Homo sapiens: one gene and its partner. The protein of the gene in region 1 interacts with the protein of each later gene in a pairwise test. Each region holds a gene or a part of one and is shown on either strand. Other genes may lie near its edges.

Region 1 (3,831 bases):
CAAATAGATCACTAGACAAGGTCTTCAAACTGTGAGCTGTTCAGAGAATCCAGAATGTCAGTTTAATTTCAGAAGTTTATTTTACATCAACTTTTTAACTCCTATCAAATGCTGTATAACCATATCTACCAAAAGAACTCCCCACAAAATTATCCACATTCACACATTACAGGAATCATAACCGGCAGATATACCAGGCACCTACCTCTTTCAAATTGTAGCTTTTTATATCTTTGCATAATTTCAGCTGCAACCATGCACTCAATCTAAGGGAAAAAAAAATGCAAACAGGAATGATAACAAGCTGAGGGCTAGAATATAATGCAACGCACACCCAAACAAAACCCACGTTATTCTGACAAGTTCAGCAGTGCACGCCTGTGCACATCAAACAGCCCAGTCTGTTCAATTGCACATGCCTCGTTCTCCTGTAGGTGGCCCTGTTTAGGGCAGGCAGCATCTGGGCAGCTAATTGCGGTTTCTAATCCTTCTTTGATCAAGAGCTCAACATACTGTTTCAGGCACTGAAAGAAAAACAGAGAAGTGTCTATAAACATCTTTACCTCCTTAATGCTGAAGAAACCATGATGCATTAAAAAAAGGACCAGGCACATCATTCCATTACAGTTTAATATTTTCACTGTGTAGTCCACAGCAACCAACACATTTGAGGTTTTGAGGTTTTATTCATTCAACAACTATTTATGGGGTACCCATTCTGTGCCAGGGACTGTATGCTCAATCACAAAGCTAAGGCTATGGGTTAGATCCCGGCACAAAACCTCAGCAAACACAAGAGCCAAGAATTCTAAAAGCAAGATGAAAGGCAGCAAGGGAGGCTGGGAGGTAATATTTCTCAAATGCCTATAAGATGCAGGCACTGCATTAAATATTTTATCTCTCAGTCTTTCACTGAAGCCTTAGAGCATTTTTACAAGAAAGGTATGACTGTTCCATTTTTCATATGTGAAAACTGAGTCAGCAAAGGAGGAAGTTGCCAACTTACACAAATAGTACCCAGAGCCTCGATGTGAACCCAAGCTTGCTCAGACAAAATGCCCATGATCTCCCTGCTGAGAACCCAACTGTATTTGGCATTCCTCACTCAGGGTGCCTCACTTACCAGGCAATTACTCACTACCTACCTTACCTACTTGGGGGCACTGCTTAAAGCCTGAAGTAAGCAAAACAAGAAGAAGTGAAGGACATGAAGTAGAGTTAATATAAAAGATTCTGTGGTCTTCACTCCTGCTTTACAAAGTCTACTAGTCTTAGAAATCTAGTGTTTCCCTGAAAAGCATATTATAAACAGCAATGAGAAGAAACAATACGGCCTTTGCCAGCTAGGCTCACTACCAAGAGAAACTAGATGTAGAGCTTATATAAGAACTCAAAGAGCATAGAAAATGATGTAAAATCCTACAACGGCATCCCCAAATCAACTTTAATCACAGTCCCAGTATATTTAAAGTTCATATTAGCAACAATATATAATATTACAATACCATTATTAAAATATAATAGCAATTAATCAAGAAAAATTAATAAGCTATGTTTGCTGAGCTGACATCTCCCCGCAAAAACGTATAATCCATTTTATTACAAGAATGCATGATTATTACTAATGAATGGGTCTAAATGGAAATTCAACTGCAATTCCTTCTACCTCCATGTTTAGAACAAGCCTATTAATCTCTCTCTACCATCCTTATTTTCCTGATCTGCAATTTAGGGTGGTTTAACCTACCTCACAGTGGAGTTGTAAGAATATTAGGCAAGTGAAAAAGTATAGAAGAATACACAGAGAAGAGTATATGCTTGATATATAAAGAATAATTTGATCTAAACTGGTAATTCTCCCCATCCTAGCAAAATAGAATATTTCATTCATTGAAGACTCCAGATTGCAATTTCTTTAAAAAACAAAAATCAAGGCAATCCTCAGAAAGAGCCACTTCCCAAAGCTTTTCTCAAGAGCTGTAACTTCAAGTACAAATTACAATGTTGGTGGCTCCACACTGAACCCTGTGTTCCAGCCTGTGTTCTTTTGATCTGCCTGGGCTCTGATGATTGCAGTGGCCCTAAACTTAGGTTTTCACAGATCATCTACATTTTACCAACCTATGGTTTATGAAGACATTTCCCAGAGTAGTGAGTATGGACGACCCCAGGCTTGGAGTTCTACGTGAGACTCCAGATGGCAGAATTTTCAGAGATAAATTCATTAAAACCAATGCAAAGACTTCTTTCAGAACAAGGGAGAGGCAGATGATGAGCAAGAGAGGAGTCACACCCAGCCTCCAGCAGGGCTGCAGCCTGGTTCTGGGAACCATCCGCAGACGTGTTAAGTGGCAGTGGCGCTGCGGACTACTAGAGTGGTGAACCATTGTAACAATGAGCAGAACAGTTGGCAGATCAGTGGAACTTTCTGTTTATGATTGGGTGCCACATGACAAGGGAGAAAGATTGTAGGCTTCAGAGCCAGACAGGCTCAACCAATCCTTGTCCCTCAAGTCAGAGTTTGAGCAACAGCTCCCTTGACAATAAAACCAGAATGCCCATCTCCCTGCACTTGACAATAAAACCAGAAGGCCCATCTCCCTGCACTTGACAATAAAACCAGAAGGCCCATCTTCCTGCGCTGTTGTGACAGTAATCTATGAAAGCACCTGGCATAATTCCTGGTAGACAGCACCAGCTAAGTAAATAGTGGCTGTTGTCTCTTTTTTGTCTACTTACGTGATTTGTCTCTTACAGTTATAGGTATTTAAAAATCCCAAAACCTTAGCAACAAGATCATTATTTTACTTTCTATTATGAAGTTTGTCTAAATGGGGTCTCTGGAGGATACTGGAGTGCGTTAAACCAATATACGATGCTGAAGACTCTCAGGATATTGTGCGGATCAGTATATAATGATAAAACATGACGCATCCTAAGAAGCAAAATACAACAATTAAAAGTGGCATGAAGCGTACACCCATATGCAACAAGTAGTGAGTCATGTCTGGGTTTCAAAGCTACCCAAGAGTGAACATCATGTGTCATCAGGATGCAGCTATCTGTACAATCTGCAAAAGGATTATGTTCTGGGAATATCAATTTGTTCACTACATAAAGAGAGATGACGTTCCAAGCGCCTGACCTTGCATCCATCAAAAACAAGCCCAGCTTTCTTCCAGATATAAAGTGGGTCATGACTCACAAGCTATGGTTTTCATTCTAATTGCAAAAAGATGTCTTGAAATGAGCACAAAAATAGGTAAACAGAGAAACTTCTGTAAAATACACAGCCTAAAAGCAGATACTGACACATTTTCCTACTACTGCACTCATTATAGATAGCAGTAGACAAATGCTTTCTAAGTCCTAGATTCTACGTGAATTGCATTACCTATGTTAGCTCAGTAAACATGCACAAAAGTCATATGGCGTGTTACCATGCTCACATGACAGATGAGAAAACCAAGGCTCAGAGACATCAACAACAGCTCAATAGAAGCACTAGGGCTCAAACCCACATGTGGCTGATTCCAAGGCTGGTGAGGTTTTATGTTTGTCTGTTGTACATTTTTTGTATACTTACTCCTCAATTGAAAACTTTTACATGAGCCAGTTTAGAGATATAACATACAACATGAGGACTAACTTTAATACAATTGTATCATATCAGGGATTGTTAGTAAGTGAGTAGACTTTAGGTGCCCATCACCGTAAAAAGCAACTATGTGAGATGATGAATACGCTGAGCTGCTTCACTATATGACCATTTTATTATCTATATGTATCCCATAATACTATGTTATAAACCTCAAATATATACAATAAAAT
Region 2 (3,831 bases), on another chromosome or scaffold:
TCATTTTTCTCTGCTTGTTTTTTGTGTTTAGCCTTTTAACTTAATAAATGTTTTTGGATCCTTCACTTGGTATAAACAAAAGGTCAAATTCTTTTGCTTGTTTAAATATATGCAAAATTACTACTGTATATGTAGTGGGTAGGATAAAGACCAAAGGTACACTCTAAATTCGGGATGTCATTCATTTTACTAATTTGTCAAACATCTTATATGAAGAGTAAACCTTTTTTGGTAATACTTCACTATTAGCAGTATTCTAACTGCAAGGTGGACCTCAGAGTCTTATTAATTACATCCAATCCAATCCATTTTCAACGTAACTAAGATAGTTCTATCTGTAGAATACAAAGAAGTAGGCTGGGCGCAGGGGCTCACGCCTGTAATCTCAGCACTTTGGGAGGCCGAGGTGGGTGGATCACTTGAGGCCAGGAGTTCAAGACCAGCCTGGACAAGATGGCGAAACCCTGTCTCTACTAAAAAAAATTAGCCGGGCATAGTGGTGCATGCTTGTAATCCCAGCTACTTGGGAGGCTGAGGCACGAGAAACGCTTGAACCTGGGAGGTGGTGTTTGCAATGAGCCAAGATCGCACCACTGTACTCCAGCCTGGGCAACAGAGTAAGACTCTGTCTCCAAAAAGAAAAAAAAAAAGTAGAAGGATGAATGAATGAAACTAATGAATATAAGTTTTATATTAATATCAGATGTAGTAGATTTTAGTGAAGTTAGGATTATTCATTATTTTTATTTAAATACAAAGCAAAAGCTTTTTATATTACAAATTATTAACTATAACAGCTACACATTTGACTACTTACCTCTTGCCAGGCACTATTCTAATTAATTTATATCCTCAAAATAATTCTATAATATAATGCAGTTAATAAAATTTAGGATGCAACAAGACCAGAAAATGTAATTGTTGAAGACAACATTATATTATATAAAATAATGTATACACATATTATTTTATACATGTTATGTATTATTATATACACATTATTTTATGCATATGTTATGTATATACTATGTACCTATAAAATATACATATTTTATATGCATATAAAAATGTAAAACGTTATAGAACAGGATGTCTTTCAATGTGAGCAAACGCTGTTTTAATGTTTCTGTCTTAAATAACATCTGTGTGCCTGAAGAACAGTTTGCTTACATAATACTGAACTGAGGACACAGTATTGCACAGTATTGGCCAAAATACTTCTCTTTTTTTGGGGGGGGTCATTTGACATTAAGATTCAAAAGATTTCATGATTATCCAAAATATATTTGTTGAAATAGAGGCAGACTAAGTACTATACTATTTATTTTCTTACAATGGCTCTGATTGGATTATAGGACATGTTCATTCCAAATTTTATGGGTAGGAAATAATGACTGTGACTTCTCTTATATTTATAGTGGACCATAGCAAAATATGCTCCCAGGTTTAATGGGTTTCAGCAACAGGACTCCCAAGAACTTCTGGCTTTTCTCTTGGATGGTCTTCATGAAGATCTTAATCGAGTCCATGAAAAGCCATATGTGGAACTGAAGGACAGTGATGGGCGACCAGACTGGGAAGTAGCTGCAGAGGTTTGTCAGTTTTGAGTTTCTAATGTAAGCAATAGACAAAATGTTCTGGCCACAAATACATGTAGCACAACTTAAATGCAAACTCAACTATTCTGAGATCAGAACTTTACTGCAAAAATGAATGAATTTCTATTTCTGTGCTTAATTCTTATGCAATAATGCCAAAACAAAAATACGTTTAATGAAAATAGAAAACTGTTGCCATTTCATATTGTAAACTTTATGGGACTGGATGTAGGAATAATTATCCAGTGGAATTTAAAGAGTCCCCGTAATTGCTAAAGTAATGGATACAGTGACCTATAGGCATGCTTTATACTTGTTAATGGACAAATAACTTTAATATTTACCATTGTTACCTTGATAAGAACAAATGAAAAATAGGATTTTCCATCTCAATTTAATATTTTATGTTAAATGAAGAGTAAGGATTATATTCTTTACATTTAAATCCAATATATTTAACTAGCTTCTTTGAATTTATATAGAAATGCTTCTCTTTTGGATTTTGAGAGAAAATTCTCATCTTTTTTATTGCTAGGCCTGGGACAACCATCTAAGAAGAAATAGATCAATTGTTGTGGATTTGTTCCATGGGCAGCTAAGATCTCAAGTAAAATGCAAGACATGTGGGCATATAAGTGTCCGATTTGACCCTTTCAATTTTTTGTCTTTGCCACTACCAATGGACAGTTATATGCACTTAGAAATAACAGGTAGGTCAGAAAGTTCTGAAAAATTACTTGACTCCATTAAATTTACTTTATTTAAATAGCCTGAATTTGTAAGCATAGTTATTTGTTTACAAATAAAGACCGGTAGTCAGCATATTATAATTGAGCAACCTAATTTTAGGCATGACTTGAGGTTTGAAAGATGTAGACTGGGGCATGTTTTTTTGGTTTCAAATATGCCAGCAACTCTCTTTAAAACCCTGCAAAGCCACTGATACTTTTATGTCAGATGAACACCAAAAAAATACTGATTTCACTTAATATTATCCCTAAGTACCATCTGTTTTAGTGTTTACACATAAAATAAAAATTCTAGGCTGAAATATTTGCTATTATATTTACAGGTCAGATATATCTGTACACAGCATTTAAGACTTTCAATGAAACCTGCATTTTACCAATAAAAGATCTTTTCTCTTTACTAGTGATTAAGTTAGATGGTACTACCCCTGTACGGTATGGACTAAGACTGAATATGGATGAAAAGTACACAGGTTTAAAAAAACAGCTGAGTGATCTCTGTGGACTTAATTCAGAACAAATCCTTCTAGCAGAAGTACATGGTTCCAACATAAAGGTAATATTAACTACTCTAAGAAACTTTTGATTCTATCCTCCAAAGATGACATTTTTCTCAATTATTATGATCAATTGTTAGGTTATGTGACCAAGAGAGATACTAAAACATAACGAAAACTGAACAACAACAACAAAAAATGCCAAGTTTTCCAACCCAGAAACTTAAGAGTTTTCTACCAGAATAAAGGGATAATACTGATGGTGGTATTTTTGAAGAAGGGAAATACGTAAGGCTGCCTATATGGAGTGTTCTAGCTGTGTCACTATAGTATAGGTTTCCACCAAAGACTGCTGCTGTTACCAAAGACTGCTGCTATTACCCTTGACAACTCTTCTGTATTACCGCTGTTACTAGAATTCTTCCTAGGTTAAAGTATTTTATGTATTTATGAATGTGTGTTTTTAGTATTTATGAATATATATACTTGGTCTTTTAACACACTAAGAAATTAAGAGTAAAGACAAATTGACACCAATCATGTCTTTCTACATACCAGCTGGGGAAACAAATAATCTAATAAATATATTGCCTACTCTAAATTAAGCTCCTGCAACTGGTATTATTTATATTCATCTTTGGGATTTCTGAACACACTCTCACCTCACTGACAGTTTCTTAATATGAAATGCAAAAATGGAGTCTCTGAGGGTTGGAATTTAGATCCCTGAAACGGACAAAACTGAAGTCAGTCGTATATAACACACTTCTTCCTGTGAAAAGAGATAATAGTTCGAAAATTGAGGTTAGTTTTCCGTTATTTTTATCAAGCATTCATCCTTTATGTAGTTGAAAAATTATTCAATCATCTCGTTGGTTTTACGGATGAAAGCGCCTAAGACATTCTTTTGAAATATGTTAGAGAGAGAACTTTTCCATTTTATCTGAAACATCTCCCCCTTCTCATCTTGCTTCTGTTTCTGTAGAA

What was found.
Region 2: the proteins of RNF144A (region 1) and USP32 interact in a two-hybrid assay, tested with the Homo sapiens proteins (one large-scale study listed by BioGRID).

The regions. Positions count from the first base shown.
Region 1 is NC_000002.12:7,011,147-7,014,977, reverse strand, and holds part of RNF144A (E3 ubiquitin-protein ligase RNF144A), read right to left. Parts: intron 525-3,831; coding exon 420-524; intron 267-419; coding exon 206-266; intron 1-205. UniProt on the Homo sapiens protein: E3 ubiquitin-protein ligase which accepts ubiquitin from E2 ubiquitin-conjugating enzymes UBE2L3 and UBE2L6 in the form of a thioester and then directly transfers the ubiquitin to targeted substrates.
Region 2 is NC_000017.11:60,207,131-60,210,961, reverse strand, and holds part of USP32 (ubiquitin carboxyl-terminal hydrolase 32), read left to right. Parts: intron 1-1,418; coding exon 1,419-1,592; intron 1,593-2,133; coding exon 2,134-2,308; intron 2,309-2,751; coding exon 2,752-2,903; intron 2,904-3,829; coding exon 3,830-3,831. UniProt on the Homo sapiens protein: Deubiquitinase that can remove conjugated ubiquitin from target proteins, such as RAB7A and LAMTOR1.